7 linked regions of the Homo sapiens genome follow. The protein of the gene in region 3 interacts with the protein of the main gene of each other region in a pairwise test. Each region holds a gene or a part of one and is shown on either strand. Other genes may lie near its edges.

Evidence for each region.
Region 1: the proteins of CCDC125 (region 3) and PTPA interact in binary tests that used the Homo sapiens proteins (3 or more experiments, as listed by UniProt).
Region 2: the proteins of CCDC125 (region 3) and NEBL interact in binary tests that used the Homo sapiens proteins (3 or more experiments, as listed by UniProt).
Region 4: the proteins of CCDC125 (region 3) and PKP2 interact in binary tests that used the Homo sapiens proteins (3 or more experiments, as listed by UniProt).
Region 5: the proteins of CCDC125 (region 3) and HDAC4 interact in binary tests that used the Homo sapiens proteins (3 or more experiments, as listed by UniProt).
Region 6: the proteins of CCDC125 (region 3) and TCHP interact in binary tests that used the Homo sapiens proteins (3 or more experiments, as listed by UniProt).
Region 7: the proteins of CCDC125 (region 3) and ZNF557 interact in binary tests that used the Homo sapiens proteins (3 or more experiments, as listed by UniProt).

Annotation. Positions count from the first base shown.
Region 1 is NC_000009.12:129,145,829-129,150,217, forward strand, and holds the end of PTPA (serine/threonine-protein phosphatase 2A activator), read left to right. Parts: exon of another isoform or gene 1-1,558; coding exon 1,559-1,636; 3' UTR 1,637-3,118; downstream 3,119-4,389. UniProt on the Homo sapiens protein: PPIases accelerate the folding of proteins. It catalyzes the cis-trans isomerization of proline imidic peptide bonds in oligopeptides. Acts as a regulatory subunit for serine/threonine-protein phosphatase 2A (PP2A).
Region 2 is NC_000010.11:20,886,684-20,891,072, reverse strand, and holds part of NEBL (nebulette), read left to right. Parts: intron 1-1,123; coding exon 1,124-1,228; intron 1,229-2,865; coding exon 2,866-2,976; intron 2,977-4,389. UniProt on the Homo sapiens protein: Binds to actin and plays an important role in the assembly of the Z-disk. May functionally link sarcomeric actin to the desmin intermediate filaments in the heart muscle sarcomeres.
Region 3 is NC_000005.10:69,315,403-69,319,791, reverse strand, and holds part of CCDC125 (coiled-coil domain-containing protein 125), read left to right. Parts: intron 1-4,389. UniProt on the Homo sapiens protein: May be involved in the regulation of cell migration.
Region 4 is NC_000012.12:32,872,477-32,876,865, forward strand, and holds part of PKP2 (plakophilin-2), read right to left. Parts: intron 1-4,389. UniProt on the Homo sapiens protein: A component of desmosome cell-cell junctions which are required for positive regulation of cellular adhesion.
Region 5 is NC_000002.12:239,110,314-239,114,702, reverse strand, and holds part of HDAC4 (histone deacetylase 4), read left to right. Parts: intron 1-2,990; coding exon 2,991-3,177; intron 3,178-4,389. UniProt on the Homo sapiens protein: Responsible for the deacetylation of lysine residues on the N-terminal part of the core histones (H2A, H2B, H3 and H4).
Region 6 is NC_000012.12:109,910,274-109,914,662, forward strand, and holds part of TCHP (trichoplein keratin filament-binding protein), read left to right. Parts: intron 1-789; coding exon 790-962; intron 963-2,717; coding exon 2,718-2,799; intron 2,800-4,168; coding exon 4,169-4,354; intron 4,355-4,389. UniProt on the Homo sapiens protein: Tumor suppressor which has the ability to inhibit cell growth and be pro-apoptotic during cell stress. Inhibits cell growth in bladder and prostate cancer cells by a down-regulation of HSPB1 by inhibiting its phosphorylation.
Region 7 is NC_000019.10:7,075,810-7,080,198, forward strand, and holds part of ZNF557 (zinc finger protein 557), read left to right. Parts: intron 1-571; coding exon 572-698; intron 699-4,389. UniProt on the Homo sapiens protein: May be involved in transcriptional regulation.

The sequences.
Region 1 (4,389 bases), on a different chromosome or scaffold from region 3:
CCTCTGGCTGGAAGGTCAGGGGGCAGTCTGAAGCCGCTGCTCCGCCCAGGTACATGGGAGGGCCTTGCTGGGAGAAAGGCTGGGCTGGAGGCTCCTCCTGCCCTGGAGCCTTAGGCTTCCTTGGCCCAGCTCCTGTGGCTCTGAGGGGGCTGGCTCTGGGGTCCTGTGGGCAGAATGGGAAGAACCCCTGCCTCCACCCCTTCTCGCCTTGCAACTTCTTCTATGGGAGCTAGAGGGAGGTTGACCTTTGACCCCTTCTGGAATTCCAGGGCCCTTGGGGGGTGGGGGGGCTCTTATGACCACTTCTGGGATGACATAAGCACCATGGCAGCTGCCTTGGCCTCTGGCCTGGATCTGCGGCTGCTCCCCCTCCCGCCCAGGGACCACCTCCCGCTCCCTGCTCCCGCATTCTGTGTCTCAGGCCCAGGATCCTGGCTGTGGCCAGGGCTCTGCTCCCCACCCCACCATGAGCTTGGTTTCCATCCTTCTTTCCCTCCCCTCCTGGCGCCTCTTTGGCCCACTCGTCACCCTGGTGCTTCTCCCTCTTAGGTTCCACAGCTGATTTTTGAGGAGAGGGAACCTGGGCCAGTCATAGCACCCGTTTGTCTCTAAGTTAGTTGGAGGTTAAGATCACAGCCACAGAGTGAGGCTCTTACTCTCTCTGAGGCCATAAGTCTTGTTCCACCCCAGCCAGGAGGTGCCTAACATACTCTGTTTTCTGTGGCCAAAGGTGTGGGAGGAGGCCCTGGTCAGTCTTGGCAGATCCAACCCTCGCATGCCCAGAACGGCTCCTGTGAGAGCTAGTGTCCAGGTGTGGCAGGCATGGGGGTGCTGTTGCGGGAGCTGCAGCTGGAAGCTGGGGTTGGCTGCCTGTGGGCCAGGCCAGCTTCTGTGATAGGCCCTGTCACTTGCTCTCCAGCTCTGCTCCTCTGCTAGGAGCCCGGGCTGGGCTGGGCTCAGGGAGTCGGGCCTCCCCCGTGCTCAGCCATTCCCCTGTTCAGCGCTCTTTTTCCCCTGCCCCCCACACAGGCTGCTGGGAATTGCCCAGGGGTGGGGGGAACTCAGTGTCAGCTGGTTCTTATTGTCTCGCTCTGAAGTGCCAAGATGCCTTTTTCAGTCCAGAGAACTGAAAGCTGGAGAAAACAGGCTTTGGGACCCGGCCTCAGCCTCTTAGGCTTACGTTCAAATGTCCCCACGTCTCTTCTCTAGAACTGGGACCTGGGCTGGGGGTCCCCAGTGATCAGGAGGGTTCTTTCCACCTCAGGTTCCCAACTTCCCTCTCTGGGCCAAGTGATGGCACCTGGCTGCCTCTCTTCTCGGTTTCTACCTTGTAGGTTTGGGCTGCCTTTTCTCTTTCTCTCTCTCGTGGGTCTCGTTGTGGAGTGGGTGTCTTTGGATAGAAGGAGTGAGGAACTGGGGGAGGAAGGCCTGGGGGATCCCCTGGCGGGGCTACTTCCTGGGCCCGGGATGGACACCTGGGAGCTGCTGCGGTTGTTGGGGTCCTGGCAGGGGTGTGGTGTGGCCCTCACCACTCTGCTCACCTGCTCCTTCCTCACAGTGCCTGGAGAAGTTCCCTGTGATCCAGCACTTCAAGTTCGGGAGCCTGCTGCCCATCCATCCTGTCACGTCGGGCTAGGAGGGGCCAAGCCGAAGAGCCACCCAGGCCACAGTTCCTGTGCCTGCCTTCCCCACCCCAGCAGTGGCCCCTCCCCATCCCCTCCCTCTGTTCGTCCCGTTTGATGAGAGGCTGTTTACTGGGGTGGGGTGGCGAGATGGGCTTGAGGGGGCTCAGAGCATAAGGCTTCAGGGCCCAAGTTGGGAGAAGTGACCAAAGTGTAGCCAGTTTTCTGAGTTCCCGTGTGCTAGACTGGCCAGAAGAGAGGGTCTGGGGCCTGGTCACTCGGCCACTCTCTCCTGTTTCTGGCCTCTTCTCCCTTCACTCCCGTCCAGTCTGGTTTTGAGAGCAGGGGCTGTTCTGCAGCACCGCAGGGAAGGGAGGAGAGATACCTGCTGCTTCCATTGCTTTTCCCTTCCTGGAGTCGATGCCTTTCTAAGGGTTGGAGCTGCTCCTTGCAGGGGCGGGTCAGTTTCCCAGGCCATGCCGGGGTGGCCATCTATGGTAGGGCTGGAAGCTGAGGCTGGCCGCCAGCTGTGGGCTGGGGTGGGGTGGGTGGGGTCGGGTGGTGGAGAGGCCTTAGCTGTCCTGGCTGGTGCCCCTCCCAGGCTCCTTTTCACCCTGCCCCCTGGGCCTGAGGCCCCCTGTGTCCAAGCCTCCCCCTGGCTCTTCAGTTCTCTAGCCCTTGGCTCTGCTGGGTTTCCTGACTGTAGCCACATCTCTCCCGCTCCCTAAGGGTAACCTAGCCAATGGAAGCTGCCCTTTGGGTAGGTGCTGGGCTCCTGGGAGGGCCCAGATGATGGGGTGAGGCATGTCTTTCCAGAACTTTCCCTGGCAGGGAGGGGATGGCAGAAACTCAGGGAGGGGCTTGGGGCCCATTGTATCTGGAGAGCCTGGATTCCTCTTGGCAGTCTTAGGCCCGGCCACTTCTGCTACCTTTGCGCTGCTGTGAGCCTCACCCTGGGCCCCTGGGCCCTGCTTCTCTGCTCCCCTGGGTGATGGGTGGGCCCAGAAGGTGGCAGTCCCACACCTTGTCCTCCCACCTCCCTGAACTGTCCATTGCTTTTATAGGGTGAGGTAAGAGACAGCCTCCCAAGCCCAGGCTTTGGCACTCAGAATGGGCCCAGTGGGGGCTGGGCAGGCCCATTGAGGGCCACCGCCGAGGTTTCTCCTAGGGCTGTTCCTGGGCCTGGCTCTTACAGGCTCGTCCCCCAGGCCTGCCCTTCTCCACTGCCCCCTCCTGTGTCTGGGTCCACACACCCTTCAGGAAGGGGGAGCACTGAGAAGCACAGCACAGGGGCTCAGCCTGGGATCCGGTGATGGTCTGGGCAGAGGCTGGGTCAGGAGTCCCAAAGGTCAGTGACAGTTTCTCAGAAGAGGCCCAGCGTCCACCTCTCTCCCAGGGCCAGACAGCCCTTCCTGGCTCCCCCATCCCCCTATGGGCTCCCAGCCCCTTGCACCCTCATTGCTGTTCAGATTAAAGCCTCTGTTTTGCACCTGTCACTTGTGTGAGGTATGTCTTTTCATGTCACATGTTTAACCCATTTCTGCATGACTGACCTCCATCAGGTCCCCTTCTCTCAGGCCACAGTGTCTGAGACGAGCTGTTTCAATTTGGGTTGAGCCTTTCCTGGGTTTAAATCCTAGCTGTCTGCAGTCCCAGCTGCAAGGTTGTAAGTTACTGAAGCCCCTGAGCCCCAGCTTCCTCAATTCACAAAATGGGGACAGTCACAGGGTGACTGCCAGCAGTGGACAGCAGATGTGAAGTCCTCAGCTCAGGGCCTGGCACATAGCATATCCCGGGTGGTCACTGCAGCTGTGCTTGGTGAAGGGGGCCCCTCTGGACTCCCAACTTAGCCCCAAGCTGGCCAGGGAGCCTTTGGATGGGCTTTGACAGTGGAACATGCACCTGTGGTTTGTGAGGGGGTGGCCCTCTATTCTCCCTCCTCTGCCCCTCCTGTCCCTGCTGGGCTGGAGTTGAGGGTCTCTGGGGCTGCTGTGCCCCAGACTTCCTTAAGACACTCTTGCTCAGAGAACAAGGGTCCTTGACCTTTCTCTTGGCCTTAGAGGCCTTGCATGGACTGGAAAGCCTCAGCCCCTCATCACCTTGCGCTGCCTCAGGCACACCCGAGTTCAAACTGAGCAGCTGCTGCTTACTCACCAGGAAGTAGAGGGCCCTCATGGTTGACTTCTCTCTGAGCCTCAGCTTCCTGATCTGAAAAATGGGCATAATGACGTTCCTATCATTGGTCTTGAGGATTCCTTCATTTCACAAATAGTGGCTGCATGTTCCTCATGACTGCAGTGCACCCAGATATGACAGTGTTAGGTAGCCGGTGGATTATGGAGAAAATAACGTCAATTAGAGAAGGCGTTGATGGGGGCAGGGCAGGGGGTTACTTGCTCTAAAAGGTCCTGTGAGCTGAGACCCTGAGGACAAGAAAGAGCCGCTGTGGAGAGCTCAGGCCTGGGCCTGGAGGGCTAGGGTTGGGTATAGGGGCCAGACTTTTAGGCCGGGGCCTTGCGGGCTCTGCTGAGTTTGGACAGTGTTCTATGGGAAGGTGCTGGAAGGTTTTGTTGGGGAGAAGGGGAGATAGGACCATTTGGGAGGTTGTAGTTGTGATTGGGCACAGGGATAGTGGCCTGGGTGAGGGTTCAGAGTGGGATGGTGGGAAGTGGTCCAATTTAGGCTGCATTTGGTGTCGCTAACAGGAAGGGAGTTATGACAGGGAGCCGAGCAGCCAAGAACCCCAATTCTTGGCTTGTGTGGCTTG
Region 2 (4,389 bases), on a different chromosome or scaffold from region 3:
CATCAATATTATTCACATCCTCTAAGAACCAGGTAGTATATACAATTCAGCTCCACTTTTGGGTTATAATTAGGGAGAACATATAATTTATCATCTGAAACAGGAACACTTTTTCAGTTTAAGTATTTATGGTCTTGGGAGGATAAACACGAGCATATTACAGAGTGATACAACTTTTAGCAAATTACCTGCATCTTCTCAATGAGTCATAGTTTTGCCTTCCCAGTTTCCAGATTGTGCAGCAATTAGTGTGACAGTGTGATTATACTTTAGGTCCTTCTCCACATTTCCTGACTTCTTTTGGGCTCAAATATCCACCCGGGTCTTCCCCCGGCATAACAATTCTGGCCTATCCCCAAAGGGGAAGAGAGTGAGTCATTTGACTTGTGAGTTGCAGAGAAGAGATGAGCAGGTTTAGCTAAGCCTCACTGGGCTTTGTCTTGCTGATCTCCAGCAAGAAGGCCTTCTGGAATGATCTCCACCACATAGCAAGCTTTCTGGGCAGGTTCAGTTCTTCTCTGCGCTCAGGAGGAGGATTGGGAAGCCTATGGGTGCTCATAAATTGGGAGGAATTAGTAACAGGAAGCCCACGTTGGCCACAATTTAAGCCTCTTCCTCTAATCAAGCATGTCTAGGTAATAACGGTAATAGTGATCCCCATTTAATTTCGCCTCTACTTCTTAATTGGTCACATCTGTCATGCTGACTACTTATTTTCTACCTTGAGGTAGGCAGCTGTGTTTCTGTTTGGCCAAAGGCTTATGTGTCAAGGCTTAAAAGCAACAAAACACCAGGACACTTGTAGGAGCGAGATGGCACATGCTTGCTAATTGCACTGGGCTGGCTGGGTAAACAGGACCCATCACCCGTAGCCAGCACGCCTGGTGTTGATGCTTAACTGGACCCTCGCTTATCTAAAGAATGGTCTTTCCTCACTATGCCTCATCATCTTTGCAATCCTGTGCTGGATAGCCGTTTATTTAACTTGGCTTGTTTTGAGGTCCCTTTCACACTTGAGTATTTACTTCAGTAAATGGACTTTATCAACCTAATTATCATTCAAAAAAGGCCATTAGAATTGTTTTTCTTTTTCTCTTCTTATGTAAATCATTCTCTTTTTTAGATCCGTTATAAAGAAGAGTTTAAAAAGTCCAAGGATAAGTGTACATTTGTGACTGACAGTCCTATGCTAAACCATGTAAAAAATATCGGTGCTTTTATTTCTGAGGTAAGGTATCAAAAGCTTGCAAACTGGCTTGCATTTATCTTTTTCTTATTATATAGATGAAAGTCTGTGCATTAAAGAGATGAAGAATAATATTTTCAAAAGCACTACTGAATGTTAGTAATAGCTACATAATTATCTAATGTGATGCGCTGTCATTTAACTCATATAGATTGACAGATTTTACTATGTATGCTTCATACATTTTATTATATATGTCTATATTTTGACTCTAAATCTTTCTTATTTATATACGATTCCTCTTGAAAAGGCATCTTTTTATTAAATAAGTAAAAGCACTGGCACAATAGTTCACTTTAGAAGTTCCATTATTTTGTTTCCTAATAGATATATCAGAGATAAATGATTGAATATCATTTTGGAAATAAATAAGATTTACCAGTTTTCTAAAATGTGATATCTTTGATAAATAATTTTAAATGTATTTAAACTATTTTGGAGTAGGATAAAGTTCAGTTCAACAGTGATACCTATTATAAAATCACAGACTGAGGAATACGCTATATTCATTTTCCAGCTGAAAAATTATGTAGTTTCTTTCTGAGAGCATTTAGAACTACAGTTTATGTTGCATTGTAAAGCACAATGTTAACGATGATGATTTCTGTGGTGAGGCATTACTGTAGTCTGTGAATAGATCACTTAGAAGAGATACGTTTGAAAAGAAACGGAAATGAAATAGTGTTGTAAATGACTGACCTCTAGTGTTTCATAAATTATGTTGGAAAAAGATCAACTGGATGTCCTTGGGATTATTTCTGCTAATGCGAAACAATTTTGAATGAAATCAGTACGTTTTCTTTCATTAAGTACCAAAATCCAAAGAGTGTGGTAGCAGAAGGCTAGCACAGGATCTGTGCTCAATAAATCAATACTGAAATCTAGCTCTGAGCAGGAAGAACATCAGGAACTCATCTGCAGATAATGGAAGAACATAGTTTGTTTGTCTTAGCTATGTTCCATTCTCCCGTGCAGATAAATACTTGATGTTCTCAATTATTGATTATGTTTCCTGAAGGAGTTAATTGCAGAGCAAAATATTGGAAGTGAGCAATCTATTGTGTTCCCTTGAACCTTAGTTTTCCCAAGAGGAAAGAGTGTTTGTCTTTAGAGTAGTGACTGAGATGGCTTAAAGACAGTGCAGGCTAGAGGTGGGTAGGCACATAAACAACAAAAAAGCACTCACTCCCCTCTCCCCCTGGAGCAGGAGGAGGCTGAGAAGACCTGAATAAAAGAACACTGTCCTTTGTCAAGTTCTAGATAGTAGATTCTAACGACTTGCATTTTCTGGAACAACTCGAATTGTTTGCTCACTCATCCAGCATGAAACTGTCAATATACACAAATAGATTTACTTTTAGAAATGTGCTTGCATTTAAATAGAAAGCCATTATGTCCTTGCATGTCTCATTGAAAGCGTTCTCTATGATAAATTGGATTTATTTCTATCTCTTCAGAATCCTGGAGTTTGTCAGCTCTGGTATCTAAAATTAAAATGGTCTGCAGATTTTAAAATCAATTCTGTTTTGGGAGAAAGTTTCTTCTTTTCTACTTATAATCACAGTTTAAAAAAATGGAAGTTTATTTATTTATTTTTTTCCTGTTTTTTTTTCCCCCAGGCAAAATACAAAGGCACCATTAAAGCTGACCTTTCTAATTCTCTTTATAAGCGGATGCCAGCCACAATTGACAGTGTTTTTGCAGGAGAAGTTACACAGCTCCAGAGTGAGGTAGGGTTTTTCTAAAGTGTTTCATGATTTTGTAGATAAAACATATAACTGGAAAAAAGCTACTTAGCGTTTTAATAAAACGTTTTCATCATGGGTGTTAAATACCAAATGAAAGTTGAAAGCAACTGATTAATGTGCTGTCAGTAGTTGCTGTTGAAATTGCAGAAAATGAAAAGGACACGCAGGTTTATGTCAGTCACATGGTACTGTTTTCTGAGTCCCATTCAATGCAATTTATAGAGCAAATCTTAATCTCATTTAGACAGCTTACATGGATGAAATTCTTATAGTAAATATTAAACTGTTCTCTAATTTGATATATGATCCCTAAGTAGAGAATATTTGAATAGCTTGTTAAAAGCCACATAAAGAGATAATGGGGCTGGACACTCTGGCTCAGGCCTGTAATCCCAGTACTTCAGGAGGCCAAGGTGGGCAGAATGCTTGAGCTCAGGAGTTGAAGACAAGCCTGGGCAACATGGCAAAAGCTGGTCTCTACCAAAAATACAAAAATTAGCCGTTTGTTGGCATGCACCTGTGGTGCCAGCTACTCAGGAGGCTGAGGTGGGAGGATTGCTTGAGCCTGGGAAGTTGAGGCTGCAGCGAACCAAGATCATGCCACTGCACTCCAACTAGAGCAACAGAGTGAGCCTCTGTCTCAAAAAAAAAAAAAAAAAAAAAAAAAGGTTGAATTCAGGATCCACAGATCTGCTTCATCAATTAGACAAGTGTTTCCTGAATTTCCTTTTCTGTAGATTGTGTTTTTCCTTTAGGATATCTCAGGCTACCAAAAATAGCCCCCATCAGGTGGAAGTTACTATTTGGTGATTGCCAGTTGCAGAGGAACTTAAGAATTGTCATCAGGTAAACTCATTTTGAATCCAGAAGGGTTTAGGAGTAATTTTCTCTTTGTAGCATATCAACACATAAGGCATTCTTAATCTATTGCATTTCCTAAAACAGACTTTCTAAATGGAATGTTTCACCTCTTTCTGGTTCATCTTAATGTTGTGTTTTCTTCACAGAACAATCAAATTTGGGGAGGTTATTTTGTTAATCTATTCTTTAGCTCTCTCAGCTACGTGAGAGCAGGGACCTCATCTGTCTCGTTCCTTGCTCTGGTCTTGTGCTCGGAAGAGTTCCTGGCACATAGAGAGTGCTCAGTAAAAACTTGTAAAATGGATTTTGTGGAATTTTAAAATTTTCTTTCTAAGGATATGCTTCCTTTTACATAGTTTGTATTCTTCATTTCACATTTTAGGTTAATAATAGTAAACACACAGAAGTTGTTCTATGCATTTCACGTGTATTTATCCCAGTCAGTCCTCAAAACAACCCAATGAGCTGTCCCCAGATTAGAGTTGTGGAGACCGAAGCACTGAGAGGTTAAGTCAGTTGGCCAAGGTGGCACAG
Region 3 (4,389 bases):
AAGTAGTTGATAGCCGGGCGTGGTGGCTCACGCCTGTAATCCCAGCACTTTGGGAGGCTGAGGCAGGTGGATCACAAGGTCAAGAGATCGAGACCATCCTGGCCAACATGGTGAAACCCTGTCTCTACTAAATATACAAAAAATTAGCCGGGCGTGGTAGCAGGTTCCTGTAGTCCCAGCTACTCGGGAGGCTGAGGCAGGAGAATGGCATGAACCCGGGAGGCGGAGCTTGCAGTGAGCCAAAATGGCACCACTGCACTCCAGCCTGGGCGACAGAGCAAGACTCCATCTCAAAAAAAAAAAAAAAAAGTAGTCGATGTTTATATTTCTAAATATTGTACAGTACAGTAGTTATGCATCTAATATATTAATGATATCTATAAATGATTACCAACCTTGCCTTTTTTGTGAAGTACTTTTTTTTGCAGTCAAATATTTACTGGGCATCATTAGGTGTCAGGCACAGGTCCAATTTCTGAGAATAATGTCAGTAAACAAAATAGACAAAGGCCCTAATGTCATGGATTTCACATTCTAATAGAGGAGATAGAAAATAAACCTGCAGGCCGGGTACAGTGGCTCATGCCTGTAATCCCAGCACTTTGGGAGGCTGAGGCGGATGGATCACTTGAGGTCAGGAGCTTGAGACCAGCCTGGCCAACATGGCAAAACCCCATCTCTACTAAAAGTATAAAAATTAGCTGGGTGTGGTGGCACGTGCTTGTAGTCCCAGCTACTCGGGAGGCCGAGGCACAAGAATTGCTTGAACCCGGGAGGTGGAGCCAAAATTGTACCACTGCACTCCAGCCTGGGCAACAGAGCAAGACTTTGTCTCAAAAAAAAAAAAAGAAAAAAAACCAAAACCCTGCAAATCAACAGATGTGTAACATTGGGCAGTGGTAAGTGAAGGGATAGTGAGTGATTATGGGGAATGGGGTGCTAGTATTTCAGGCCAGGGTTAGGAAGGCTTCTGTAAGGAGGTGACATTTTTTTTCTTTTTACTTTTCTTTTTATTTTTTATTTTTATTTATTTATTATGAGGTGGAGTCTCACTCTTGTCGCCCAGGCTAGAGTGCAGTGTCACAATCTCGGCTCACTGCAACCTCCGCCTCCTGGGTTCAAGGTATTCTACTGCCTCAGCCTCCTGAGTAGCTGGGATTACAGGTGCCCGCCCCCATGCCTGGCTAATTTTTTTTTTTTTTTGTATTTTTAGTAGAGATGGGGTTTCACCACGTTGGCCAGGTTGGTTTCAAACTCCTGACCTCAAGTGATCCGCCCACCTCAGCCTCCCAAAATGCTGGGATTACAGGCATGAGCCACCGTGCCTGGCCTTTTTCTTTTTTAAAAAGAGACAGTCTCACTGTGTCACTAAGGTGGAGTGCAGTAGCATGATCACAGCTCACTGCAACCTCAAAGTCCTGGGCTTAAGCAATCCTCTTGCCTCAGTCTCCTGAGTAGCTGAGACTACAGGCATGTTCCACCATATCCGGCTAATTTAAAAGAAATTTTTTCGGCCAGGTGCTGTGGCTCACGCCTGTAATCCCAGCACTTTGGGAGGCTGAGGCGGGTGGATCATGAGGTCAGGAGTTTCAGACCAGCCTGACCAACATGGTGAAACCCCATCTGTACTAAAAATACAAAAATTAGCCAGGCATGGTGGCGTGCACCTGTAATCCCAGCTACTCAGGAGGCTGAGGCAGGAGAATCACGTGAACCTGGGAGGCGGAAGTTGCAGTGAGCCGAGATCGCACCACTGCGCTCCAGCCTGGCGACAGAGCAAGACTCAGTCTCAAAAAAAAAAAAAAAAAAAAAAAAAAATTCTAGAGACAAGGTCTCACTATGTTACCCAGGCTGGTCTCAAACTCCTGACCTCAAGCAGTCCTCCCACCTTGGCCTGAGCACCAGAATGAAGGGGAGAGTAAGGCAGTGGATCTTTGGGAAAGGAGTGTTCCAGGAAGAACAGAGATGCTTCTGGTTATTTTAGGAGGTCATGAAACTCTCAAAAATTGTCAAAACAGTTAGTCTTAATTTATCATAACCAAAAAGAAATTATACCTTACCTTATGGAAATAATAAAATTTAGCATCGTATTTTGATAAAATGTTACAACTCCAAAATGATCGGGAGTCTGTGGATAAGCCCATGCCTGTACCATGGCACCAGCTGTTATCTGGCTAAATATTTTGTAATCTATGTTGTAAAACTTCCTCTTCTGAAACTTCCCCTCAAAGTTGAACAAACACAAATTAGAACAACATGAGAGTGATTTAAGAAACATGGTTTCAGATTTACAAAAATACGTGGTAGCTCGTGGTAGCTCAGGGTTCATCCCCATCCTTCAACATCCCTCTTGAAATCAGAATGGGATTATTTTTATATTTTTCTTCCAATTCCTTATTGTGTATAGAGAATGGATACTGTTTTGAAAGCAAAATGTTGGAAACTGAGCATGATGCTAAGATGCCTTTATAAAAACATGAAGATGCCAGGTGCGGTGGCTCATGCCTGTAATCCCAGCACTTTGGGAGACTGGGGTGGGTGGATCATGAGGTCAGGAGTTTGAGACCAGCCTGGCCAAGATGGTGAAACCCCGTCTCTACTAAAAATACAAAAAAATTAGCTGGGCATGGTGGCAGGTGCCTGTAATCCCAGCTACTTGGGAGGCTGAGGCAGGAGAATCACTTGAACCTGGGAGGCGGAGGTTGCAGTGAGCCAAGATCACACCACTGCACTCTAGCCTGGGCAACAGAGCAAGACTCCATCTCAAACAAACAAACAAACAGCATGAAGAAACACTGGGGTATAAATAAGATTTAAATAGTAATAGTATGAGTTCCCATTTTGTTGGGTTATGAACTTTTCTTTTTATTAAAGTTGGCCCTATCACTAATAGATAATTTCCAAAATACCACACATTTAATGGCTTAAAACAACACAAATTTATTATTTTACAGTTCTGTAGGTCAGAAGTCCCAAACAGGCTACGTCTGGTAGCTGATGCCTATAATCCCAGCATTTTGGGAGGCCGAGGTGGGAGAATCACTTGAGGCCAGGAGTTCGACACCAGCCTGGTCAACATAGAAAGACCACACTCCACAAAAAAAAGTTTAAAAATTAGCAGGTGTAGTAGTGTGCACCTGTAGTCCCAGCTACTTGAGAAGCTGATGCAGGAGCACTGCAGCCTGAGCAATAAAGCAAGACCCTCTCTCTGTGGGAAAAAAAGTCCCAAATAAATTTCAGTGGGCTAAAGCCAGGGTGTTGGCAGGGTGCGTTCCTTCTGGAGGTTCAGTGGGAAGACTCTACTCCTTTGCCTTTTCTAGCTCCAGAGGCTACTGCATTCCTTGGCTCATGGCCCCCTCCCCATCTTCAAAGCCAACGATGGCTGAGTCTTTCTCACATCATATCACTCTAACATTTACCTTCTCGTCTCCCTCTTTCATGTATAAGGACTCTTATGAGTACACTGGACTCACTTGGATAATCCAGAGTACTCTCCCATCTCAAAATCCTTAATCTCATCACATCTGCAAAGTTCCTTTTGCCATGTGTTCACAGCTTCTGGGAATTGGCATGTGGACATCATATTCTGCCTACCACAAGTATTAATAGAACAGAACTTGTCACTGCCAACCCAGAGTCACTCTGCCCTCCTTGGAAGCCTGTATCATCAATCACAGTACAAACATGATTTAGGTTTTGCCTTAGATACTGTCATGTTAATGAAATTTCAGAATAGCAAAGAAAGTTGTTTTGAGAAATATTTTTTCAAAGCAAACATTCTTCTCAATAAAATTTTTTTTTTACTTCCTATACTCTTGCTTATAACTTGCCACTTTAATTTTTTTTTTTTTTTTTTTTTTTACTGCCGTTGAGGCAGAAAGGAAAATGAAGCTCTTAGGAAGCTCAATTTAAATTCTCAGTTGATCACATTAAGGAGCAAATAATTGAAGTTACAGGACTCTTCTAGTCATTCTTTTTGGAAAGAAATTAAATTTAGGTTTTTTTTTGGTTTCTTTTTTTTTTTTTTTTTTGAGACGGAGTTTTGCTCTTGTTGCCCAGGCTGGAGTGCAATGGTGCGATCACAGTGTGCACTGCAACCTTTGACTCCCGGGTTCAAGCGATTCTCATGCCTCAGCCTCCTGAGTAGCAGGGATTACAGGCGCCCGCCACCATGCCCGGCTAATTTTTGTATTTGTTAGTAGAGATGGAGTTTCACCATGTAGGCCAGGCTGGTCTAGAACTCCTGATCTCAGATGATCCACCCTCCTCAGCCTCCCAAGGTGCTAGGATTACAGGTGTGAGCCACCACACCTGGCCTTTTTTTTTTTTGTTTTTTTTTTTGTTTTTTTTTTTTGAGACAGAATCTCGCTCTGTTACCTAGGCTGGATT
Region 4 (4,389 bases), on a different chromosome or scaffold from region 3:
TGAGCCGAGATCGTGCCATTGCACTCCAGCCTGGGCAACAAGAGTGAAAGTCTGTCTCAAAAAAAAACAAAACAAAACAACCCAGTAACTTGTGTGCGTGTGTAATCTCCCCGTAGCCAGCATTCCTGCCAACTAACAACACAGCCCTGCCCAGGCTGGTTCCCCTGATATTAGAATATGGCTACACCTCTGAAGGCAAAGCAAACATAAAATGATGAATGGATAGCTCCTACAAGTATTGTCAGACGCTCAGTAAATGCAAATCCCCACAAATATTTTAAAGTAGGATGAAAGCAATGCTTTGGAAAGATGACTCTGGAATGGATATGTGTTTCTTGAAAGAGAGACAGCGTTGAGGGCACTATAAAAGGTTCAGCTGAGGCAAAAAAGCCTTGAACTGGGCTGTTAAAAATGGAAATGGAAAAAAAAGGTAGAGTTGAAAGAGATGAAAAATTAAAGAACTAAAGCAGGTAGTAATTAAGAGGACGTGGAGGGAAGTCAATATGATCTGTTTTCTGCTCTGCAGTGCTCTTGGTCACAAATTTGACTGTCAATCCTAGAGAAGATCCACCCTCTCTGCTTAGTCTCCCTCAACTAATCCCAGAGCACGATGCTCTTGTGGGTTTTGTTTGTTTTGCTTTGAGACAGGGTCTCACTCTGTTGCCCAGGCTGGAGTGCAGTGTCACGATCATGGCTGACTGCAGCCTGGACCTCCCAGGCTCAAGTGATTCTGTTGCCTCAGCCTCCTGAGTAGTTGGGGCTACAGGCATGCACCACCATGCCCAGCTAATTCTTGTACTTTGTAGAAGTGGGGTTTTGCCATGTTGCCCAGGCTGGTTTCAAATTCCTGGGCTCCAGCAATCTGCCAGCCTCAGCCTCCCAAAGTGCTGGGATTACAGGTGTGAGCCACCATGCCCGGCCCTGCTCTTGTGTTCTTTAAATTTCTGTAGACACTAATATGTATCACACAACCTAGCACTTGATGATATATCCTATTTTTCACTGCTCCTCTCCTAGACCATCATACATCTCACTCAATTTTCATCTTTTATTTATTTAATTATTATTTTGGAGACTGAGTCTTGCTCCTTCGCCCAGGCTGGAATGCAATGGCACGATACCAGCTCATTGCAACCTCCGCCTCCTGGGTTCAAGCAATTTTCCTGCCTCAGCCTCCTGAGTAGCTGGGATAACAGGCATCCACCACCATGCCTGGCTAACTTTTGTATTTTTAGTAGAGACGGGTTTTCACCATGTTGGCCAGGCTGGTCTCAAACTCCTGACCTCAAGTGATCCGCCCACCTCGGCCTCGTAAAGTGCTGGGATTACAGGCGTGAGCCACCGCGTCCGGCCCATTTTCATCTTTTGTGATGCTTACTGGGAAGGACCTATGAAGATCCTACTACTCATTTGCAGAACCATCAGCCTCCAACTGGTCATAAATCATGGTTTTAGAAAAATTCATCTATAATTTTTTTTGTGGTGATTCTTAAAAACCTTTTTCATCAGTTTGATTTAGAACATCGGTTTCATCAGTTTGTCTCTCTCACACTCCAAGTCTCAGTTTTTAGCTGCATTAGTAACTGTTTAACCAGCCATTCTTCTTTTGGAAAGCCAGGTCCATTGTTTAATACCTTAAGTCATTATGCAGGTTTATGGTTTTGTCCAGTTAATATTCAACATATATGAAAGAATACTCCTTTACATGTGGGAGTTTCACTAGGCATAAAAACTTAAATCCCCCCCAAAAAAGGGCTGGACAAAGTTTGACAATGCGGGACCAAAGAGAACACAGTGTGTGGTCTCAGGGCAGGTGTCCCAGGGAGCAGCCTGGGGAACTGAAATGAGGCGTGGAGCCCAGCAGAGGAAAGGGGGAGGTCAGACAGGCACAGGCACCACCTTGGGCATCTATCTTCCTCATTACACAAAATACGTCTGGCTCCCTCTCCTTTTCACAGAGAGCCAAATTTTCCTTTCATAATCAGAGAAAAAAAGTTGATTTCTATGATTTCTACTCTCTAGAATTTGGGGAAATCTCAGGAAGAGATTTCTTACTCATTATTTTTAAATTTCTTGACCCCAAGTGTTCCTTCTACTCTTGGAAATATGATTAAATATTATAATACAATTTACCCTGTCTATTAAAACAATAATCCAAAAATAGTATGACTAATACTTCTAGAATTTGAGCAACAAAAGAACCTAGATGGCAAAAAGTAAAATTTATATTTCATTTCTCCTTCCTTTAATTCCTTCACTCTTTCACCATATACTTATTTTTTGAAAGAAGATCTCATTCTGTTGCCCAGGCTGGGGTACAGTGGCACAATCACAGCTCACTGTAGCCTCAACCTCCCTGGCTCAAGCAATCCTCCCACTTCAGCCTCCGGAGTAGCTGGGACCACAGGTGGGCACTATCACGCCAGGCTAAGTTGTTTATCTTTAATAGAAGTGGGGTCTCGGGGTCTCCCTATTTTGCCCAAGCTGGTCTCAAACTCCTGGGCTCAAGCGATCCTCCAGCCTGGGCCTCCCAAAGTGCTAGGATTACAGATGTGAGCCACTGTGCTGGCCTCATCATATATTTATACAGTGCCTACTATAGGCCTACTTCCATTTTAGGGTGCTGAGAATATAAAGATGATTGAGCATTCACAAAAATCTCAAAGTCCAGAGGGAGAACAGATAAGCAAATGAATAGCCACAATATATTTTTCTGATAGAGACACTCACACAAGGCTGCTATCTGGGGCACCTAAGCTAGACTGGGAAGGAAGTGGTCAGAAAATAGGTGGTATCTGAGCTAAATCCAGAATTATAAGTAGTCAGACAAAAGTAGAGCTGCATATGTAAAGGTGTGGAGTGGGGGAAAAGAAGGAAAGAGAGAGAGAATGAATATGGATAAATATCTTGCATTAAGGAAAGTAAAGAGGTTCCAGGTGGTTTGGGTATTGGTATGTGGGTATGTTTGGGGATGGTGGTGATGAATGGCAGAGAAGAGTAGAAGGAGAAGAGGCTGAAGTGATAAGCAGAGCTGAAAACACAATGGGGCTTGTAGGTCATGCCTAAAAGCATGAACACTTAGTGGAATTATGGAAGGGTTATAAACAATCACATGTGGAAAGATAATTCTGACAGTCCTAGAGAACGGTTCTGACTGAGCAAGACCAGAGGCAGAGAGCCCTGTGTAATGGAAATGGAAAGAAGGGTAAAAATTCAAGACCCATCATAGAAGGAAAAATATGGCTTGGTGATAGGTGACTACAGAGGGAGAAGATAAGAATGACTTCCAGGTTTGAAAATAGTAGACTACAGCAGGAGGAGATGGGTGGAAGTTGAGGATAGGGAGATGATGAGTTTAGTTTAGGATATACTGAGTGTGAAATTTCCAGGAGGTTGTTACATTTTCATATAGGTCCAGAATTTGGCATCAAGGATGGAATTGCAGACAAAACTTTGAGAACCATAAGGATAAAAGTGAGGTACACAGAGCCTCTCTGGAAGAGCATCAAGACTTGGAATAGAAGGGTTACTGAAGATGCCTTCTTTGAGCAGGCAGAAAGGGAGCACGCAGAGAACACTAACAAAGAATGGCTGGAGAGGTGAGTGGAAAACCAGGGGAAGCTGGTGCCCTGAAAACCAAGGGATGAGAGAATTTCATGGTGTCTCAAACACCACCCACAGGTTGAGTAATATAAGCAGTGCTTATATTACTCAATATAGTGTCTGCTTAGGATGTAGCAGATAAGGCCATCATTGCTACATTTGTCAGGAGACTGTTTAGGTGGAATGGAGGGGACTGAAATCATATTGCAGTGGGTTGACGAGAGACTGGGAAGTGACAGGGTGGTTCAAGAAGCAAGGGACACAGAGATGGAGGGAGAGAATGCCAGTTGTTGGAGGATGTCAGATAATAATTTTGTTACTGTTAAAATCATTTTGCTAAAACTGTGGCTATCACAAATCCTAGGCTATGGTAGGCATTCCATAAATTTTGAATTACCTGTTTAAAAGCCTTTATCAGCTTTTTCCTCCATAAACAATGACCTGATACACTTTCTCTTTTTTTTTTTGAGACAAGGTCTCACTGTGTTCCCCAGGCTGGAGTGCAGTGGCACAAATCTTGGCTCACTGCAACCTCCATCTCCTGGGCTCAAGTAATCCTCCCGCCTCAGCCTCTCGAGTAGTTAGGACCACACGTGCACACAACCACACCCAGCTAATATTTGTATTGCTCGTAGATATGGGGTTTCATCATGTTGCCCAGGCTGGTCTTGAACTCCTAAACTCAAGTGATTCGCTCGCCTGGGCATCCCAAAGTGCTGGGATTACAGGCCTGGGCCACTGCTCCCGGCTTATTTTTCCTCTTTGTAAGTATGCTCATATTGCCTA
Region 5 (4,389 bases), on a different chromosome or scaffold from region 3:
TAGAGGTATTAATTGATCAAAAAGGCAGGCAGGGCCTGATCAGAAGTCAAGACCTTTTGTGACCCAGAGGTGCTAATGAGCAGCCCTGCAGATCCAGACAGACGGGTGCGATTGTGGCACCCAGAGCCAGTAAGGCTTCAGGGCACTGACACCCAGTAACCAAACTCACAGGAGACTGATGAAGAAGGCCAGTGAATGACTGGTTAATTTCCATTGAAACATTAAACTTCTGAGTCAGCAGAAATACCTAAGGCATTTGGGCAGCCAGCTGGAGCCCCGTATCTGCAGCTAGAGTGCCCTCAGGAAAGTGGCTTCCTCCCTGTAGGCAGGAAGCCAGTCCGAGGAACCACAGCTCTGTAGGATTTGATTCTATCCTCCAGCAGCAGAGCTGCTGCCTCGGCTGCAGGAGCCACTGGCTCGTTCCCTCCCTTCTCTCTGGACTCCATGCCGGCCGTGCCGTTGAGCACCTCCCCAGCTTCCTGACTGCCAGCTGTGTGGCCAGACGCTGCATCTCCACCCCCAGCAGCACCTTGGAAGCCAGGAGCAGGACGCCCTGCAGTAAACTGTTCCCCTTAATTCTCAGCTACAGTTCTTAAATGCTTGCCACTGAATGAATCAGTGTGGGGCCTTGTACCTGGAGCACCTAGACCCAAGCCTGCCACACACGGGATCAGTGCTCAGTGGTCTCCAGAGGCTTCTGGGTCAGGAGCCCTTCTCCACCGAGCTTCCCCCAGTGGCTGGCATTGGGTGCTATTTCTCCTTCTTGTTCAGAGGGGGGCCTGTCTCTAATTTCTGGGCCTTCTTAATTAGCACCCCGGGCACTAAACACTACAAAGCCCAGCAGAACTAACGCTTGGCAAAGACAGAGAGAGAAAGCCCCGGGCCTCTCTGGCACACACACGGTGCTTCATGGTGAACACTCGTCCACAGGTCCTGTCCGACAGGCCCAGGGTGGGGGCCTCTTCCTGTGGTCGGGCCTTGTAAGTTGATGAAGATCTGAAATTCAGTGTGCTATTATTAGGCTGATAAGAAATGGGAAACTATTTACATTAATAATTTTTAGGGCTAGTTTCTCATAGATCAGCCTTTACTTTGAGAAAAAGAGGCTTGTTATATTCCAAGCATGAGATGATTATTAGAAACACTTATTTTCTGTTCTCTCTGGAGAGTAATAGGCAGAACCCCTTATCAGGGAAACGTCGTAGTACACGGAGCAATTTGCCGAGGTAAACATAAGGCGGGGCACCTCCAGCCCGCGTCGGGGAGGATTGCTTATTAACCACTTAACCGCGTGGGGCCCACGGCAATCCCAGCTGAATTTGGTCAGCAGCAGACTGGGGGCCTGTGGGTGCTGGCTCCTGCTCCAGCTCCTGCTGCAGCTCCTCCCACTGTCTCAGGGCTTCCTTCTTCTCTGCTCCCTCCTGGCTCTGATTCCTTTTGTGTGTGTGTGTGTGAGACAGAGTCTCACTCTGTTGCCCAGGCTAGAGTGCAGTGGTGCCATCTCAGCTCACTACAGCCTCCGCCTCCTGGGCTCAAGCAATTATTCTGCCTCAGCCTCCCAAGTAGCTGGGATTACAGGCACCCACCATCACGCCTGGCTAATTTTTTGTTTGTTTGTTTGTTTTGTTTGTTTGTTTTTTTGGAGAGATGGGGTTTCACCATTTTGGCCAGGCTGGTCTCGAACTCCTTACCTCAGGTGATCCACCCGCCTCAGCCTCCCCAAGTGCTGGGATTACAGGCATGAGCCACCACGCCCAGCCTGATTCCTAAAGGCAGGACAGATCGGAGCCTGGCCGGGTAGCTCTGGTTTCCCCCAGTGCTGGCAGCACAGGGCTGGGCTCTGCCTTCATACAGGAGCTGGGATGTAGGTACCTGGTTTTCCATGTTCACAGGATTTGTTCATCAAAACTAAGACAGGATTGGCGCAGAGCTCCCAGCAAGGAGGCGCCCGGCTTTCTTTGTGCCTCGGCCTGGGTGGCAGGTTGCTGTGCTCTCCCTCAGCTGCTGTCTGGGGAGAGGCTTGGCAGCTGTGACCTCATCTCTGCCCTGCTCCCTCCACTCCACTCTGCCTCGTATGGGGGTTTGCACCTCAGCCTGTTCCCAGAATCCCTCAGGGTGTCCCAGGCCCCTGGCTGAGTGCCCCCCCCACACACAGAGCCCAGCCCAGCTCCATCTCATCAGAGAGGCACATCCCCACCAGCAGGCCTGCTCTAGGCCCCAAAGGTCCTGGGTGCCCAGAAGCTGATGGGCTGTTACTGCTTTTAGCCTGCACGAGGGTGTGTGGGATGTGAGACCAGGGAGGGGAGCGGCTGCAGATGAAGCCCAGTTGGCACTTTCAAGTCTGAGAGCCGATGGTGCTTTCTCGCCCAAGTTTGGCATGCAGATTCAATGCTGTTGGTCAGAACTAAGACCCACAAACCCAACAAGGGGGTTGGGCTTCGTGCCCACTCACCGTATGTGTGTGGTATGGCAGAGTGGACGCTGTGGTCCCCACATCTACATGGCCTTCGCATATCCCCCAGTGAAACCAGCGAGGGCCAGGCTGCCGCCCCAGCAAGAGCTTCTCTCCACACCTGCCAGGCCCTACTCCCCTGCACCTGCTCCAGGCTGCTCCTGGCTCAGCACCTCCTCAGAGAAGCCCTCCTTGATACCCCATACTGGGCCAGGCCTCCCTGGGACCCCCTGACTCAACCTGTGTTATCCTGTTAACGTAACCCATGGCAGGATCCCACGTGGACAGCCTGCCTTCCCTAGAGAGACCGTCCTGGGAGGCAGAGCCTGTGCTGGCCTCGTTCTTGGCTCTGGGCCCACTCAGGCTTCAGGGCACTCACAGGGAAGGCCTCTCCACGCAGCTGGCCTCCCGGCATCCTTGTGGCCCATGTATGGCCTGTGCGTGGACGGGAGACTTGCAAGAGAGGGCAACCCCTAGCCCTGCAGCCCAGGGGCGGGAGACATCCGCAACCGCCAACACGGCCGTTTCTTCCCCGCAGCAAGCCCTCCTGCTGGAGCAGCAGCGGATCCACCAGCTGAGGAACTACCAGGCGTCCATGGAGGCCGCCGGCATCCCCGTGTCCTTCGGCGGCCACAGGCCTCTGTCCCGGGCGCAGTCCTCACCCGCGTCTGCCACCTTCCCCGTGTCTGTGCAGGAGCCCCCCACCAAGCCGAGGTTCACGACAGGTAACACGTGGCCTTTGTGCAGCCTGAGGGTGCAACGCGGGCCACAGTGGGCACAGCGCGGGGGGCTCTTCCCGGCCCAGCTCTGCAGAGGCTGAGGAGGGGCTGGGCAGGCACGAGGGCCACGCTGGATGGTGGGGACCACACAGGTCTGTCACAGAGGCCCTCTCCCCGCCCTACACCCCACACCTTCAGTTCTGTCATGCTGGGGACCTGTCACGGGCTCACTTGCCCACTTTCCTGTCCCAGAGACCCATGGTCTCCTCCAAGAACAGTCCACAGCCCATGCCCGTGGGGCCATGAGAACCTACAGCTTCTGGTCCGGCTCAGGAATCATGAGCCCACGCTTCTCCGCTTACTCCCTCACACTTCGCCCACGTCCACAGCGTTGACGCTGAGGCTCCAGTGACAGGGCTGTGAATGGCTGGCGGGGGGCTGTGATTACACGAGAGCAGAGCCCGGGACCCCTGGGACACGCTGTGGGAGCCACACGTCCTCTGTCTGTGCCATCCCTCATACCATCCTCACCCCGGGGAGGCGATCTGCCAGCAGGGGTCCTTGGTTTTCCCTCACAAGAAGGAGGCAAGTAAGGCGTCCACCACGGCTGAGGAGGCAGGAGGGGCCGGGCCCTGGACTTGTCTGCCTGGAGCTAGCCAGAGCCGGGGAGGAGACTGCTGTCCTGGGCCGCCCCGCCACCCAGCCACCCCTGCAGGGGAGAGGAGGGAAGGAGGGCTGGCTTCTGGCAGGGCTTGCCTCTGAGACAAGCACAGAGGCAGGAGCGCTCTTCATGTTGTTATGATCTAATATTTCTTGTTAATGACGCACTAAGAAAAATGTTCTGTAAATACAGCACGGCTTCATTCTTCAGATGATTCTCATCACGTGGCTTAGTGTTCTGCAGTCTGCGAGGTTCTCACTCTCAGGTCTTAGAAGGATGCTATTCATATTCAGAGACAAATTTCCAGAGTAGGTATCCAGCAAGTAAAATGCTGCTTCTCAGAAAGAAAACCATGGAAGGTCACAGGAGCAGCCAGATGACCCACTCCACAAGTCCTGGGCAGCTGACTGCAATAAGTGTGTTCTTGAAAGAATGCAGCTCAGACAAGGGAGACCCCAGTCACCGCCACCAAGGAGAATCCTCCCACTAAGCTGGCCCACCCTGGCTGGTCCCAGGAGACTTGCAGGGAGTCCCGCTTCGTTGGTGTCCTTTCTTAG
Region 6 (4,389 bases), on a different chromosome or scaffold from region 3:
ACTGCGGTCAGGGCAGGACATGGGGCACAGTGGCATGGTTGGTCCTGGTGTGCAGCTGTTTTTTATGGGGTCTTGCTCTGTTGTCCAGGCTGGATTGCAATGGCGCAATCACGGCTCACTGCAGCCTCAACCTGCCAGGCTCAAGCCATCCTCCCACCTCAGCCTCTCGAGTAGCTGGGACCATAGGTGTACATCACAATGCTTTGTAGAGATGGGGTCTTGCTACATTGCCCAGGCTGGTCTTGAACTCCTAGGCCCAAGTGATCCTCCCACCTCAGCCTCCCAAAGTGCTGGGATTGCATGCATTAGCCCCAGTGCCCAGCCTCCTGCATTATTTTAATGCTTCCATTATGTTGATGTACATAGTAGCTAATTCCCCACCAAGGAGCATTTTGGTTGTTTCTGGTTTTTCCCTCTTACCTAAAAGCTGCAACGAGTGTTTTGCACTTTTGTGTCACTGTGGTCTTTGTTCTTATAAGTGGGATTTTTGCCAAGTTGTATTCCAAAAAGTTGTGCAACCAGGTGTATCCGAGGGCATGTGGTGGTGGCTGGGTCTCCCTTTAGCCAGAGAGAAGCTCCTAGGCCTGTGCAGTGTCTGAACCACCCCTCGTGATTATCCCCAGTCTGTTCCAGAAATAATCCAGGATCTTCCCATCTCTGTCTTGAGAACACTGTGTAGAATCACGAATGTCTATGTAGAAAGGAAAGGGAGGGCAGGCCCCTCTGTAGGCTCTCATTGCAGAAGGACTCTGTCCAGCCCAGCCACGTGCCGCCCTCTGCTTCCTCTAGGAGGCAGACAGGCGGATCCTGCAGGCCCTCCTCGAGAAGGAGGACGAGAGCCAGCGCCTCCACCTGGCCAGGCGGGAGCAGGTCATGGCCGATGTGGCCTGGATGAAGCAGGCCATTGAGGAGCAGCTGCAGCTGGAGCGGGCGCGGGAGGCAGAGCTGCAGATGCTGCTGAGGTGAGTGGCAGCTGCTGACTGGGCTGGATGCTCCTGGCCTCAACTCTGATACCTTGAAATGCCCCATGGGTCACCTGTTACTGAAATATCTATTGGCTGGGCGTGGAGGCTCACACCTGTAATCCTAGCACTTTGAGAGGCCGAGGCAGGTGGATCGCTTGAGCCTAGGAATTTGAGATCAGCCTGGGCAACATGGCAAAACTCCAGGCTCTACCAAAAATACACAAATTGGCCAGGCGTGGTTGTTCATACCTGTAGTTCCAACTACTCGGGAGGCTAAGTGGGAGGATCACTTGAGCCCAGGAGGTTGGGGCTCCGATTAGCCATGACTACACCACTGCACTCCAGCCTGGGTGACAGAACGAGACTCTGTCTCAAAAAAAAAAAAAAAAAAAAAAGAAGAAGAAGAGATAGCTGTGTATGTTGTCCATCATTCCTGAGGAGCACATCTTCATAATGGACCTGGCCTCTGGGGGTGTTTCCCTTGTATTATCTGAGGTGGAAATCATTAAGGTTTAGAGTAACGATGTGTTCATCTGAAATCTTAGAGGTTTAGAAGGAAATTATTTTTTTTTTTTTGAGATAGAGTCTTGCTCTGTCACCCAGGCTGGAGTGCAGTGGCATGATCTCGGCTGACTGCAATCTCTGCCTCCTGGGTTCAAGTAATTCTCTGCCTCAGCCTCCCGAGTAGCTGGGATTACAGGCGCCCGCCACCACACCCGGCTACTTTTTGTATTTTTAGTAGAGATGGGGTTTCACCATCTTGGCCAGGCTGGTCTTGAACTCCTGACCTTGTGATCCGCCAGCGTTGGCCTCCCAAAGTGCTGGGATTACAGGCGTGAGCCACTATGCCCAGCCAGAAGGAAGTTATTATAGAGATGTTGAATGCTGCTTACATCTATAAAACTGAGTTTGGGTCCTAAAGACTAAACTAGTAGATTGAAATCATCAAATAATAAGTAGCATACATTGAGCACTTACTGCATGCTGGACACTGTGCCGGGTGCTTTACAGGCCTCATCTTACTGAGTCCTGACATCCAGCCAAGTGGTGGCTTGTGAGACCCGGAGACTTGAAGAGGTCACTCCGTCCAGGGTGAGCTATCAGTGACACAGGCATGCGGTGGCAGGGTTCAGGCACAGGCAGCGCCCTCCTCTCCATGTTCTGATGGTTTCATTCATCTCTGTGTTAAACAGCCACGGTGTAAGTCATCCCAATTCCTTTTTATAAGGAGATGGGGTATTAAAAGGGTAACTTAAAATACTTCCAACAGGGCCAGGCACGGTGGCTCACGCTTGTAATCCCAGCACTTTGGGAGGCCAAAGCAGGTAGATCACTTGAGATCAGGAGTTCAAGACCAGCCTGACCAACATGGTGAAACCCTGTCTCTACTAAAAATACAGTAATTGGCCAGACATGGTGGCACATGCCTGTAATCCCAGCTACTCAGGAGACTGAGGTACTAGAATCGATTGAACCTGGGAGGTGGAGGTTGCAGTGAGCCGAGATCGCACCACTGCACTCTAGCCTGGGCAACAGAGCGAGACCCATCTCAAAAATAAAAAAAATGAAAAACTTCCAACAGTACTTTCCGTGGATGCTGTCCTTAATTGTAATCTTTTCAAAGTGCATGTGGATGTTTATCTGCAGTGTGGTCCTGCAGAAGCCATGTGCCCTGCAGCCCTGTCTGTTCCGTAGCTCGCTTCCTGCCAGGGCGGGGAGGAGCCTGCTGTCATCCCTTTTGTGTTTGCCCAGGGAGGAGGCCAAGGAGATGTGGGAAAAGAGAGAGGCAGAGTGGGCCCGAGAGCGCAGCGCACGGGACAGACTGATGAGCGAGGTAATCCCAGCTGCGGCGATGTGGACCGGCTGTTGGGTCTTGGGCAGGTGTCTGGAAGTCCATGGTCAGTCACCCTGCCAGATGCTCTGGGAACAGAGTCTTCTCTGGTCATTTTAAGTGGGCTTTAAAAATCATTGAAAAAGTAATATGAGCTTAGTAGAAAAGAATTCAGAAGTACAGGAAGTAGAAATGGAAAAAAGTCCCCCAGAGCCCATCCTGTATGCAGCCGTAGCTGCTGCTTCTGTCTGCTCTTCTGTTTCTATGCCTGACATTTTTTCTACATGTATTTCTTACTGTCTTGTGCTATTTGGCTTCAAGCGTTGTGACATGCTGTTACATCTTTATAAACGGCATGTCAGGGGCTGTATCACGGACTGTCCTCTGTCACCCGCTGCCTTTCCATTCCCTCTTATGGGTGTGCTGTGTTGTTCTAATTGGAAGCCATTCTGAGAAACGCTGCAGAGAGCCTCTTGGTGCCTGAGGCTCTTCCCACACGTTTCCCCCCTCGGGGTAGATGACAGCCGTGACCTGGAGGACATAACTGCTTTCCTGGTCAGTGTGTACACTGTGCGTGGAAGATATACCCCAACCGCAGAGAAATCTGGGAGGAGAAGAGAGAGTGTTACCCATGGGCTGAAAGCTGTTGTAAAGTGGTTTCAAATGAGAAACTCTACGTTGTGTCTGGTAGTATGCTGTATTTTGGAATCCACAGGAAATTGGGTCGTGATTGGTGATGTTTTGCTCTTGTAAATACCAAGAATTCTCCAGTGCCTTTTGATTTTCCTCATTTAAATTTCCCTCCTGATGGCGGCCACTTTCTGTTCCCCCCAGCCCTGCAGCCTAACTGTTGAGAGTGTCAGGTGGTTTTCTGCTCCTGACTGTGGCCTGGGCTGGAGTTCAGATGTCACACGGCTCTGGGGCCAGGTCTCAAACACAGCAGGTTCAAAAGGTTAGAGGACCACCCCAGCTCCACCTCTGGTCATCTGTGTGGCTTGTGGCTCTCTTGTTTTTGGAACCCGCTGATAGGAAGGAGACTCACCTTGTTGCTCCAAGGTTTCTCTGGCCCCGGGGAGACAGCTCCATCCCCATCTCCTTTGATTTCTTTGGCACTCAGCTGTCTCTCCATAGTACACAGTCTGGATACATTTTGTGTGTCTTGGGTTGCGAGGGAAACATTTCTTGTATACTGGCAAGCGTGGCCGACATCGTGAGAGCAAATCCTGTCATCTGGCTCTGCCTCTGCGTACCTGGGCCTGAGGCCCAAGGATGAGGCTGGGCCTTGCTGTGGCTGCAGCCTGTCCAAGGCTTGTAGAACCAGGATCTGTTAGGGTCAACCTCAAAGCTGCCCTTTTCTTTCTGCTGAGGTTAGGTTCTGACAGGGAGACAACAGCAAATACAAGAGAAGATTGAGCAGAACCGACGGGCACAAGAGGAATCCCTGAAACACAGGGAGCAACTTATTCGAAATCTTGAGGAGGTGAGAGAGTTGGCTCGTCGCGAGAAAGAGGAGAGTGAAAAGCTGAAATCGGCCAGGAAGCAGGAGCTGGAAGCCCAGGTAGGGCTGAGCCCAAGGGCGGGAGGCACCGGGCC
Region 7 (4,389 bases), on a different chromosome or scaffold from region 3:
CAGTGGCCTGGAGCCCCACGGCCAAACTTGTTCCTCAGGCATCCCAGGGTCTCTGAGTGAGGGCTGCCCAGAAAATGTCAGTGTGTGTCAACGTTTACTGCAGGTTCAGAGCTCCCTCCAGAGTCCCTGAGTACATCATGTGCTCCTGAGAGTTTTAAGGGAAAGCCAAGTAAAGACGTGATGATGTTCTAAACCCAAGCAATTAATAAAGGCCATACGGAAATCATTCATTCACTTACCAAGTATTTCTCTGATTTCTGCCATGTCACGGGCCCATGATCCCCTGGAGACTGAGGGAAATAAGATCATAGGAGCTCCCAGTTTGAGTGAGAAAAGACAGCTGCTCTGCGGTACTGTGCGCTGGACCTGGGAGTAGCCTAAGGAGACAAGCATTGAGGGCTGAGCTCAGAAGCCAGGGAGAAGAGCTCAGAACCTCAGGAGAGGAGCTCAGAATCCCCCCACATCTCGTGCTCAGGTTTCCCCAGCCCTGGCTCTGTTCTCCTGGCCCCTCTTCCTGTGCACATTGGTGGGGGTGGTCCTTGGCTAAGCCGTGATGTTTGCAATGCTTTAGGGCTTGGTGACCTTTGAGGATGTGGCCGTGGAGTTCACCCAGGAGGAGTGGGCATTGCTGGACCCTGCCCAAAGGACACTGTACAGGGACGTGATGCTGGAGAACTGCAGGAACCTGGCCTCACTGGGTAAGCCTAATGTCATTCCTGCATTTATTTAATGACTCAGGAAGTCAGTCTTTTTTTTCTTTTTTTAAATTGAGGTAACACAGGACACAAAAGTCACCATTTAAACTATTTTAAAGTGTCCAATTTGGTGGCTTTTCGTAGGTTCACAGTGTAGTACAGCCATCACCACTAATTCCAGAACATAGTTGTCACACCAAAAATAAGCCCCATAGTCATGAAATGGTCTCTCCCCAGTTCTCCCTCCTGAACATCTTGGCAGGCACTAATCTTTCCGTCTCTATAGATGTGTCTCTTCTTTTTGAGGGGGTTGTTTTTAGACAGTGTCTCCCTCCGTCACCCAGGCTATAGTGCAGTGGCGTGATCCTGAGTAGCTGGGACCACAGGTGCGGACCACCACGCCCAGCTAATTTGTTTATTTTTTGTAGAGACAGGGTCTTGCTATGTTGCCCTGGCTGGTCTCAAACTCTTGGGCTCAGGTGATCCTCCTGCCTTAGCTTCCCAAAGTGCTGGGATTACAGATGTGAGCTACCATTCCTGGCCCAATTCTTGACATTTTATATAAATGAAATCATACAAAATGTGGTCTTTTGTGTCTCACTTTTTGCTTAGCATAATGTTTTCTTTCTTTTTTTTTTTTTTTTTTTTTGAGATGGAGTTTCACTCTGTTACCCAGGCTGGAGTGCAGTGGTGTGATCTCAGCTTACTGCAGCCTCCACCTTCCAGGTTCAATCTGTTCTCCTGCCTCAGCCTCCTCAACAGCTGGGACTAAAGGCATGCGCCACCACACTCAGCAAATTTTTGTGTTTTTAATAGAGATGGGGTTTCACCATGTTGGCCAGGCTGGTCTTGAACTCCTGGCCTCAAGTGATCCACCCACCTCAGCCTCCCAAATTGCTGGGATTACAGGGATGAGCCACCACGCCTGGCCGATGTTTTCAAAGTACAGCTGTGTTGTAGCACATAGCAGAACTTCATTCTTTTTATGGTTGAATATTATTCCGTTATGTGTATATACCACTTTTTATATATCATTTCATCAGCTGATGGAAATTTAGCCTGTTCTCATCTTTTGGCTATTGTGGGTAGTGCTGCTATGATCATTCATATACAAGATTTTGCTTGAGCACCTGTTTTCTCTTGGGTATATACCTAGGAGTGGAACTTCTGTGTCCTGTGGTAATTCTGTGTTTAATGTGTTGAGGAATGTCCAAACTTTTCTACAACTGCTACACCATTTTACATTCCTACCAGCAGTGCATGAGACCAGCAACGTATTAGTTTCTCTGCATCCTTACCAACATTTGTCTCTTTTCCTTTTTTTAAAAAATTATGATAGCCATTCTTGTGGTTGTCTGTCTCATTGTGGTTTTTATTTCTATTCCCTAAAAAAAATGATGAGATTGGCCATCTTTTCTTGTGCTTGTTGGCCATTTATACATCTTTTTTGAAGAAATGTTCATTCAAGTGCTTTTTCCATTTGGGGGGCATTGTTTGCCTTTTCGTTATTGAGTTGTAAGAGTTCTTTATATGTTCTGCATCCTAGACCTTTATCAAATATATCATTTTCAAAGATTTCCTCCCATTCAGTGGATTGCCTTTTTACTATCTTGAATGATAGTTTTGCAGGAGATAGAATTCTTGGTTGATATTTTTCTTTCAGTACTTGGAGTATGTCATCATCCCACTGGCTTGCGGCCTCCATGGTTTCTGGTGACAAATCAGCTGTTAATCTTGTACATGATGACTTATTTCTCCCTTGCCATTTTTCAGGATAGTCTGTCTTTGGCTTTTGACAGTTTAATGTTAAGGTATCTCAGTATGAGTTTTTAAGTGTATCCTATTGGGAGATCCTTGAGCTGCTTTGATGTGTAGACTTGTAATTTTCATCAAATTTGGGAAAGTTTGGCCATTATTTTTACATATATTCCTTTTTTTTTTTTTTTCCCGGAGTCTCACTCTGTCGCCCAGGCTGGAGTGCACTGGCACGATCTCAGCTCACTGCAACCTCTGCCTCCTGGGTTCAAGCAATTCTCCCTGCCTCAGCCTCCTCAGTAGCTAGGATTACAAACGCGCACCACCACAGCTAGCTAATTTTTGTATTTTTAGTAGAGACAGGGTTTCACCATGTTGGCTAGGCTGGTCTCGAACTCCTGACCTCAGGTGATCCTCCCACCTCGGCTTCCCAAAGTGCTGTAATTAGAGCGTGACCCATTGCACCTTGCCAATTTTTCCATATATTCCTTCTGCTCCTTTCTCTGTCTCCTCTCCAGTAGCAACTCCCATTATGTGTATTCAGATGTTTGATGGTATCTTCTGGGTTTCTTAGGCTCTGTTCATTTTTTTCCCTTTATTTTTAATTTCTGCTCTACAGATCAGGCAATCTTAATTGACCTGTCATCAAGTTCACTAATTGTGTCTTCTGCCTGATCAAGTCTTCTGATGAACCCCTCTAGTACATTTTTCATTTCAGATAATATATATTTTTCAATTTTAAAATTCCTATTTGGCTCCTTTTTATAATTTCCATCTCTTTATGATTTTCTCTATTTGGTGAGAATTCATTCTCATGGTTTCCATTAGTTCTTTGTACACAGTTTCCATTAACTCCTTGAGCATATTTGAAATAGTTGATTTGAAGTCGTTGCCTAATAAATCCAATGACTAGGTTTCCTTATGGAAAATTTCTGTTCATTTCTTTTTTCCTATAATGCAGTTTCATTCATTTTTTGTTTCTTTTTTTTTTTTTTTTTTTGAGATGGAGTCTCACTCTGTCACCCAGGCTGGAGTGCAGTGGTGCAATCTTGGCTAACTGCAAGCTCTGCCTCCCAGGTTCACGCCATTCTCCTGCCTCAGCCTCCCGAGTAGCTGGGACTACAGGCGCCCACCACCACGCCTCGCTAATTTTTTATATATTTAGTAGAGACAGGGTTCACCGTGTTAGCCAGGATGATCTCGATCTCCTGACCTTGTGATCCGCCCACCTTGGCCTCCCAAAGTGCTGGGATTACAGCCATGAGCCACCGCGCCCGGCCCATTTTTTTGTTTCTTTACATGCCTCATAATTTATTTGCTGAAAACTACTTTCAGAATATTACAATATGGCAGTTCTTTAAATCTGATTTCCCCCCTCCCCAAGGTTTGTTGTAGTTGGTATTGTTTCTTTGTTTAGTGACATTTCTGAACTAATTTTGTAACGTCTGTATTGGTCATGTGTGGCCACTGAAGTCTCTGTTCTGTTAGCTTAGTGTTCAGCTTGGGATTAATTTGTCAGAGATTTTTTTAAATACCTGGAACCCAAAAGATGACCAGTCTTTGCCAATGGATCTGAATTACATGTTGGAGCATGCCTTCAAAACTCAGCTAAAGCATCTTACAACTCTGACTTAGCCTTCAGTTCCTTCTTATGCAGAGCCTGAAGGTCAGTCAAAGGTGAGGGCTTGGTGCCTTCTCAGATCTTCTCTGAGCATGTGTTCATCCCTGGGTATGAGCATGGCCTTCTAGAAATGTGTGGAGGCCGGGCGCAGTGGCTCATGCCTGTAATCCCAGCACTTTGGGAGGCTGAGGTGGGCGGATCACCTGAGGTCAGGAGTTGGAGACCAGCCTGGCCAAGATGGTGAAACCACATCTTTACTAAAAATACAAAAAAATCAGCCAGGCGTGGTGGCAAATGCTTGTAATCCCAGCTACTTGG